Homo sapiens: one gene and its partner. The protein of the gene in region 2 purifies or fractionates together with the protein of the main gene of each other region. This does not show direct contact. Each region holds a gene or a part of one and is shown on either strand. Other genes may lie near its edges.

Region 1 (3,652 bases), on a different chromosome or scaffold from region 2:
GCTACATTCAGATGACGAATTGCTATGTGAATCAATAAATAAGCCACTTAAAATTTTTACTTTAGCACCCAGCACATAGTATATTTGTCTTGAGTAATATGCATAAGGTGCTACAGAACCACAGCGAGTTGTGACTTTTGCATAGTTTGGCAGTGGGCTTGCAGAGGAAGGAAAATTAGATCTGGGTATGGAAAGAGTTCATTAGGTAGGAGTAGAATAGAGGGCTGAAGGTGTTCCAGGCAGAGGGCACGGCCCATGCAAAAGCATGGAGGCATGACACAGCACGCAATGTGCAGGGAATCATGGTTAATTTTGTAGGAAATCTCCAGAGTGGTGCCAGAGATATTCCTGGAAAGGTTGCCTGGAACTAGATCATGGAAGGTCTCATGTAGATACTGGGAATGTCGATGAATTTTAGGGGGTGTGTGTGTGGGTTTATCATGGTTAAAATTACTTTTTAGAACAGTCACTCTGAGGAAGAGGACAACTGAGGGGTAAAGAGGGAAAGACTAGGGCTTTTTGAGGGAGGCTTGTTAGGAAAGACTGGAGGCTTTTTGAGGGAAGTGTGTTAGGAAATACTAGGGCCTTTTTGAGGGAGGCTTGTTAGGTCACTGCAGTGGTCTTGGCTTGGCTAGGGCTGTGAGGAAGGAGAGAGGGTTTGGATTTTAGTAAAAGAGATACTGACATAAGTGTATTTGATTTTCAGACTCTGAGATTTGCCCACCTGATGACCTTGCCAGCTTGCCATCATGCAAAGAAAATCCTGAAGATGTTCTGAGCCCAACTTCAGTAGCTACTTACCTGAGTTCCAAGAGTCAGCCTTCTGCTAAAGTCAGTGTGATGGGGACTGATCAGTCAGAGAGCATTAATACCTCAAATGAGACAGAATACTTAAAACAGAAAATCCATGACTTGGAAACTGAGCTGGAAGGCTACCAGAATTTCATATTTCAGCTTCAAAAGCACTCCCAGTGCAGTGAGGCCATAATTACAGTTTTGTGTGGGACAGAAGGGGCCCAGGATGGCTTGAGCAAGCCCAAGAATGGTTCTGATGGGGAAGAAATGACCTTTTCAAGTTTGCACCAAGTGCGATACGTGAAACACGTGAAAATCCTCGGTCCGCTGGCCCCAGAGATGATTGACAGCAGGGTGCTGGAGAACCTCAAACAGCAGCTGGAGGAACAGGAATACAAGCTGCAGAAGGAGCAGAATTTGAACATGCAACTTTTCAGTGAGATCCATAATCTGCAGAATAAGTTCAGAGATCTCTCACCTCCCAGGTACGTTCCACCTCTGCCGTCTCCCCGTTTAAGCCTGTAGTCCCCCAGTATTGCCACTAGGTGGGAGCCCATGAGCTAAAAGAGAACACTACTCTGTGATGGGTAGAGTGTGTTCTGGGGAAGGCTTGATGGTGGGGTTCAGGCAGCCAGGTCCTGTGGAGAAGGGAGAGGTGAGGCCACAAAGAAGAGGAACAGCGACCACGCACTTGAACGTCAGTTACGAGTCTTGGGTCCTCTGGAAATCTGCAGGGCAGATTTCGCCCTCCTCAAGTTGGGGGCTCAGGGTAAAGGTTTCATACCAGTCACTTGGTGAGTGATAGTGCCTTTGCTGAACTGCAGTGTGTACTCCTGGACTCTGTTACTGGCTTTTGCTGTGCTGTGAAACTAAAACTGATGTCTAGGCAAGGTAGGAGGAATATAAATATTTTCCATATCTTTACCCTTTAAGGTCATCTTAGAGAAATAAGCTTGTGTTGAAAGAGAAGAATTCTTAGGTCATGAAGATAATGCTTTATGGGCATAGATATATACGGTTTTGCTTCATGAGATATGGCAAAAATGGGATCATTAGTAAAGTTGACCTTCATTTGTCACTAATTTGAGTCAAACACATTGTTCTGAATTGTCAGGAGCCAGGATGAATTTTTCAAGACTTCCCAAGCAGTGAGATTGAAGGAAGCTTGTAATTATTGAAAGGCTGTTGTCTCAGGCCCCTGGTTAGGCACTTTTCTTATCTAATCCTCAAAATCACCTGAGAAGGAGGTATTCTTAAACTAGTTATTACAGGTAGGGAAACTGAGCCTCAAAGTAGCTGCAGTGACTTGGCAGAGAACATTCACAGAGCTGGTCAGAGCCATTGCCAGGGTTCAAGCCCACATCATCCCACTCCAGTACCCATGTTTACTCATGTTACTCATGAGTTACCCATGTTTACCCATGTTACTCCAGTACTCACATGATACTGGCCCCCACCTTTAATGCTGGTATCATGTAATCTGCATGTGCACACTCTATGTTGAAGGTGACTGCCAGCCCATGTAGTGTTGTCATTTCCAGGAAGGAGAAAATTATGTTGAACTGAAGTGTCAACATCTTTGCCAAGCTACTCTCTGGAGCAAGGTTATTGTGGCCAGTTTACATGAGTCACATTTCCCTTAACCTGTTTACTTCTCAGTGTCTTTCTCTTATGGGCTCACGTAGGAAAAGGTGGCACATGACGGTAAAAAGGTAATATTGCATAATGATCTTCAAAGTGAGAATTGTGTTTGAATCCAAAATCTTTACCACTTAATTAGCTTTGCAGTCAGTTTATTCTTCTGTAAAAGGGGACATTTATACATTTGTTGGAAGACTGAGAGGATCAGATAACATATAAAGCACTGAATTCAGTTACTGACAGGTCCTAGACCCTCAGTAAATGGTAGTTAGCATCATGATTATTCAGTGACGTTTTGTTCGGGAGGAGAGAGTCCTGTCTTTTTTTCTTTGTGGTACACTTTCTTTATCACACTTCATGAGAATTTTTGGTAGATCCTCTGACCCTTGGGGCACTTGTTTCTACAATTCAGAATAGTATTTTTGAAGAGTGTATGGAAACTTATTGTTTGCCTGAGTTCTTGCCAATCTGTACTTTAATTGGGGGCTTTATAAGGTTAAAAATGTTGCAGAAGAATCTTTGTTCCAGCCTTTGTTGGCTGTGTGAAATCAAAGAAGAGCTGACCTTGTACAGTTTCAATTTTTCTAAAAGTATATATACTTGTACAGCTGCAGGCTTTTAAAAATTGTACTCTGTCATTTTTCCAATTAGTGTTAAGGTCACAAAAATTCAATTCTAAAATGGTCCAAGTATTTTCTTTCCCCTCTTTTATCAGATACGATTCATTAGTTCAGTCCCAAGCCAGGGAGCTCTCCCTTCAACGGCAGCAGATTAAGGATGGCCATGGCATCTGTGTCATCTCCCGTCAACACATGAACACCATGATTAAGGCATTTGAGGAGTTGCTGCAGGCCAGTGATGTGGATTACTGTGTGGCCGAGGGTTTCCAGGAACAGCTGAATCAATGTGCTGAGCTGCTGGAGAAATTGGAAAAGCTATTTCTCAACGGTAGGTAGGGTGAGGTACGCGAGTCTTAAGACATCAGTAATTGACCCAGGACTTCTTGGAGGGGCACAGGAGGAGCTAACTCCTTGGCCTTAGTTATCTTTCACCCCTCTGCCTTGATGAGGTGACAGCAGAACCACACTGGCTGCTGCTTCCTCCCAGTGACCACTTCCACATGGCTTGTGGTCGGCACTGTTACAAACCAGGAGTCCAGTTTAGACGCCTCAGGGGCCGGGCTGGTGAGGTACATGAGTGAAGCCAGCCAGAAGGC
Region 2 (3,652 bases):
TTAAATTCTCAAATCCATATTTTTCACATTCAGATTTTTGTTATGGACTGGTCTATTTTGGCATTACTATAAAGAAATACCTAAGGCAGAATAATTTATAAAGAGATTTATTTTGGCTCATGGTTCTGCAGACTGTAGAAGAAGCATACTGCCAACATCTGCTTCTGATGAGGGCCTCAGGAAGCTTTCAATGATGGCAGAAGGCAAAGAGGGAGCAGGCATGTCACAGGCAAAGAGAGGGAGCAAGAGAGAGGGGGAAGTGCCATGTTTGTTTTAAAAAAACAACCAGTTATTGCATGAACTAATAAAGCAAGAACCAGCTCATTACCCATTGGGAGGACACCAAGCCATTCATGAGAGATCCTCCCCCATGACCCAAACGCCTCCCATTAGGCCCCACCTCCAACACTGGGGATCACATTCCAACATGAGATTTGGAGGGGACAAACATATAATGTTCTTACCATGACCCTGGTAGTTGTAACAGAAGGAAGTATAATGGGCCATTATATTTTTAATTTTTAAAAATATCAATATACTGTTTTGAGAATAAATTTTACAATGTTAAATGTGTTTTCTTTATTTTATTTTATTTTAATTTATTTTGAGATAGAGTCTCACTCTGTCACCCAGGCTGGACTGCAGTGGTGCAATCTCACCTCACTGCAGCCTCTGCTTCCTGGGGTCTAGTGATTCTCCTGCCTCAGCCTCCCAAGTAGCTGGGATTACAGGTGTGCGCCACCACACCTGTAGATGGAGCCTGGCTAATTTTTGCATTTTTAGTAGAGACAGGGTTTCACCATGTTGGCCAGGCTGTTGTTGAACTCCTGACTGCAAGGGATCTGCCCACCTCAGCCTCCCAAAGTGCTGGGATTACAGGCGTGAGCCACCACACCTGGCCTTAAATTTGTTTTTAAAAATATCATTAAGGATAGTAGCTATATAATTATTTTCACACATTCTCAAGTGCTATAATCTATGAAAAAATAATTATTATAATAATTAACTCCAAAAAGATATGCATGTTTATCTGGGATTCAATTAATTTAATGCAAAAGCCTTAAAATGGTCATAACTTCTTCAAATTAATCCTATAAAATATAAAAATAATCCTAAATATGTACAAATATTTAGTTATAAAGATGTTTATCATGGCATTTTTTAATAGCAAAACATTAAAAACAGCCTAGATGGCCAATGATTGGTTAAATAAATTATAGTATATCCTTATGATTTAATACAAAATAGTATTGTAGAACAACTCTTTATAAAGAAAAATGTTAACTAAACATTATGTTTTGAAAGATCCAAATTCTGGAGCTGGGCTGGGTGCAGTGGCTCAGGCCTGTATTCCCAGCACTTTGGGAGGCCAAGGCAGGCAGATCACTTGAGTTCAGGAGTTCAAGATCGACCTGGGCAACATGGTGAAACTCCACCTCTACCAAAAATACAAAAAATTAGCCGGGTATGGTGGCACATGCCTATAGTCCCAGCTACTTGGGAAACTGAGATGGGAGGATCGCTTGAGCCTGGGAGGCAGAGGCTGCAGCGAGTCGAAATCCCACCACTGCACTCCAGCCTGGGTGACACGGTAAGACTCTGTTTAAAAAAAAAAAATTGGAGCTGGTAGAAATTTGTGTGTCTATACACAAAATAGAGTATATATACAAAAATTAACAGTCATTACCTTTTGGCAGAATTATGTATACTTTTTTTTACCTTTTTGTTTTTTCCTGTAGTTTCAAAATTTTCTCCAGTGAAGATATACATTTGGAAATCATATTAAAATGTTATTAGGGAAAAAGTGCTTCTCACACCTTAATGTGCATATAAATCAGCTGGGAAATCTTGTTAAAATGCTGATTCTGACTAAGTAGGTCTAGGTGGGACCTGGGATTCTTCCTCCTAACAAGCTCCCAGGAGATGCTAATAATGCTGGACAGGGACCACACTTTGAGTAGCAAGCTGTCTTCTAACTCTGTCATATGGCTATTTTTGCAAAGCACAAGCAAGTAAAAGCTTCTCGTTATGTTAGTACAGTTGATATAGTACTTGCATTGCTAAATGGCTCATGGAATGATTTCCTGATTTCAACATCATTTAATATCCCAACTATTTTAGTTTTACTATAAAGTCTGCTTGTTACTTAAATTTTTATTGGAAATCATGATAAAAATACACAGGTAACACTGAAAATTGGTATTTACTAGAGCCAGGTCAGCATTTGACTGCTTTTGGTTAATGGCCATGGGCTTTTAAAATAAATTGCAAAGATCACAATAGCACAAATTAGTAAGAAGCTCATTTGTGTAATACTGCAGTGATGTTTAATGTTAATTTAACAAATAACTCAAGATTTATTGAAAATTATGCTAGTAATACTGAAATAAACTGACAAGTTATTTGCCTTCAAGGAGTTCAAAATCAAACATGAGAGACAGATACATAAGGATTAATAGTAATGCATTTTAAATATTATAAACTATAATATATATAGTATACAAACTATACCATATAAATACTATAAATAAACCACAATAAAAGTTAAGTATAAGATGATATAAGAACATAAGGAAGAGCACAGACTCTAAGAAGGATGAAGGATAGATGAATAGGATACATTGGTGGTTTTGTTACAGAGATGATACCTGAGAGGATGCCTAAAGTATGGGCAAATCTCACCACTGGTAGAAGTGAAGAAAGAGAATTCCAGACAGAAGCAGCAACTTGAACAAGCACTGTTGTAAAAGGAATCCATTATCTGACTATTCATTGCCATGCTGACTGTCACGTCAAAAGCGTTAGTTCTAATTAAATGCCCAGCAAAAACGGAAGATGTATAGTAGCTATACACATTTCTCTGTAGTAAAGTAAGTTAACTTATCCTGTATTATGCTAGTTAAAATCTTTAGGCTCTTTTAACAAAGGTTGCATTATATTATTTTCCACTTTAAAAAACTGCATTGGCTCCCCACTAATACAGCGTAGTACAAAATTCTGGATGTCTAATAGAAAACTTTTAAAGTTTAAATCCAGAACCTAATTTTCTAGACAGTATCTTACTAAACCTTTTAAGTAAGTTCTAAATGTTCATATTTTCAAATACTTGTGTATGTTATTTTCTTAAAATAACCTTCTTCTCTAGGTCTCAAAATTCTATTCATTCTTTAATATTTTTGAAGTCCCCCATTTTCTCTTTAGTAACAACTTTTTTCTTACACTTAGCTTCCACAGTAAGCTTAGACATTTTAAAGCAACTATTTCATTATGCCTTGAATATTATATTATGTTTGCTCTTCTTTTTGGGGGTAAGAACTAGATCTTATTTTTCCTGGAAACTTGCTTACTTACTATGATATAGTAAATACTCAAAAAAGTTTTACCAAATGAGTAGAAATTGACTATTATCAAGAAGCTTATGGAATAGTTTCAAGTGGAAAAAGCTGATAAAAAGACAAAGGTGGAAAGTCTTTTAGCTGAGAAGTTAAAATGATACAGATTCAATGGGCTAACAAATAGGAGGTAAACTGTCTGAGAGATTGTATAAAATTTGCAAAGGTAAAACTGACTGAAGTGGTCTACTGTAACCACTTTATGATTTTGCTAGAGGACATCCATAATCAAAACTGCTCATTTGTTTAATATATTTAAA

The links.
Region 1: the proteins of PRKACB (region 2) and CDK5RAP2 purify together in Homo sapiens (affinity purification with mass spectrometry; 5 studies listed by BioGRID and IntAct, with this or other methods). This does not show direct contact.

Annotation. Positions count from the first base shown.
Region 1 is NC_000009.12:120,437,027-120,440,678, reverse strand, and holds part of CDK5RAP2 (CDK5 regulatory subunit-associated protein 2), read left to right. Parts: intron 1-706; coding exon 707-1,280; intron 1,281-3,151; coding exon 3,152-3,384; intron 3,385-3,652. UniProt on the Homo sapiens protein: Potential regulator of CDK5 activity via its interaction with CDK5R1. Negative regulator of centriole disengagement (licensing) which maintains centriole engagement and cohesion. Involved in regulation of mitotic spindle orientation.
Region 2 is NC_000001.11:84,147,232-84,150,883, reverse strand, and holds part of PRKACB (cAMP-dependent protein kinase catalytic subunit beta), read right to left. Parts: intron 1-3,652. UniProt on the Homo sapiens protein: Mediates cAMP-dependent signaling triggered by receptor binding to GPCRs.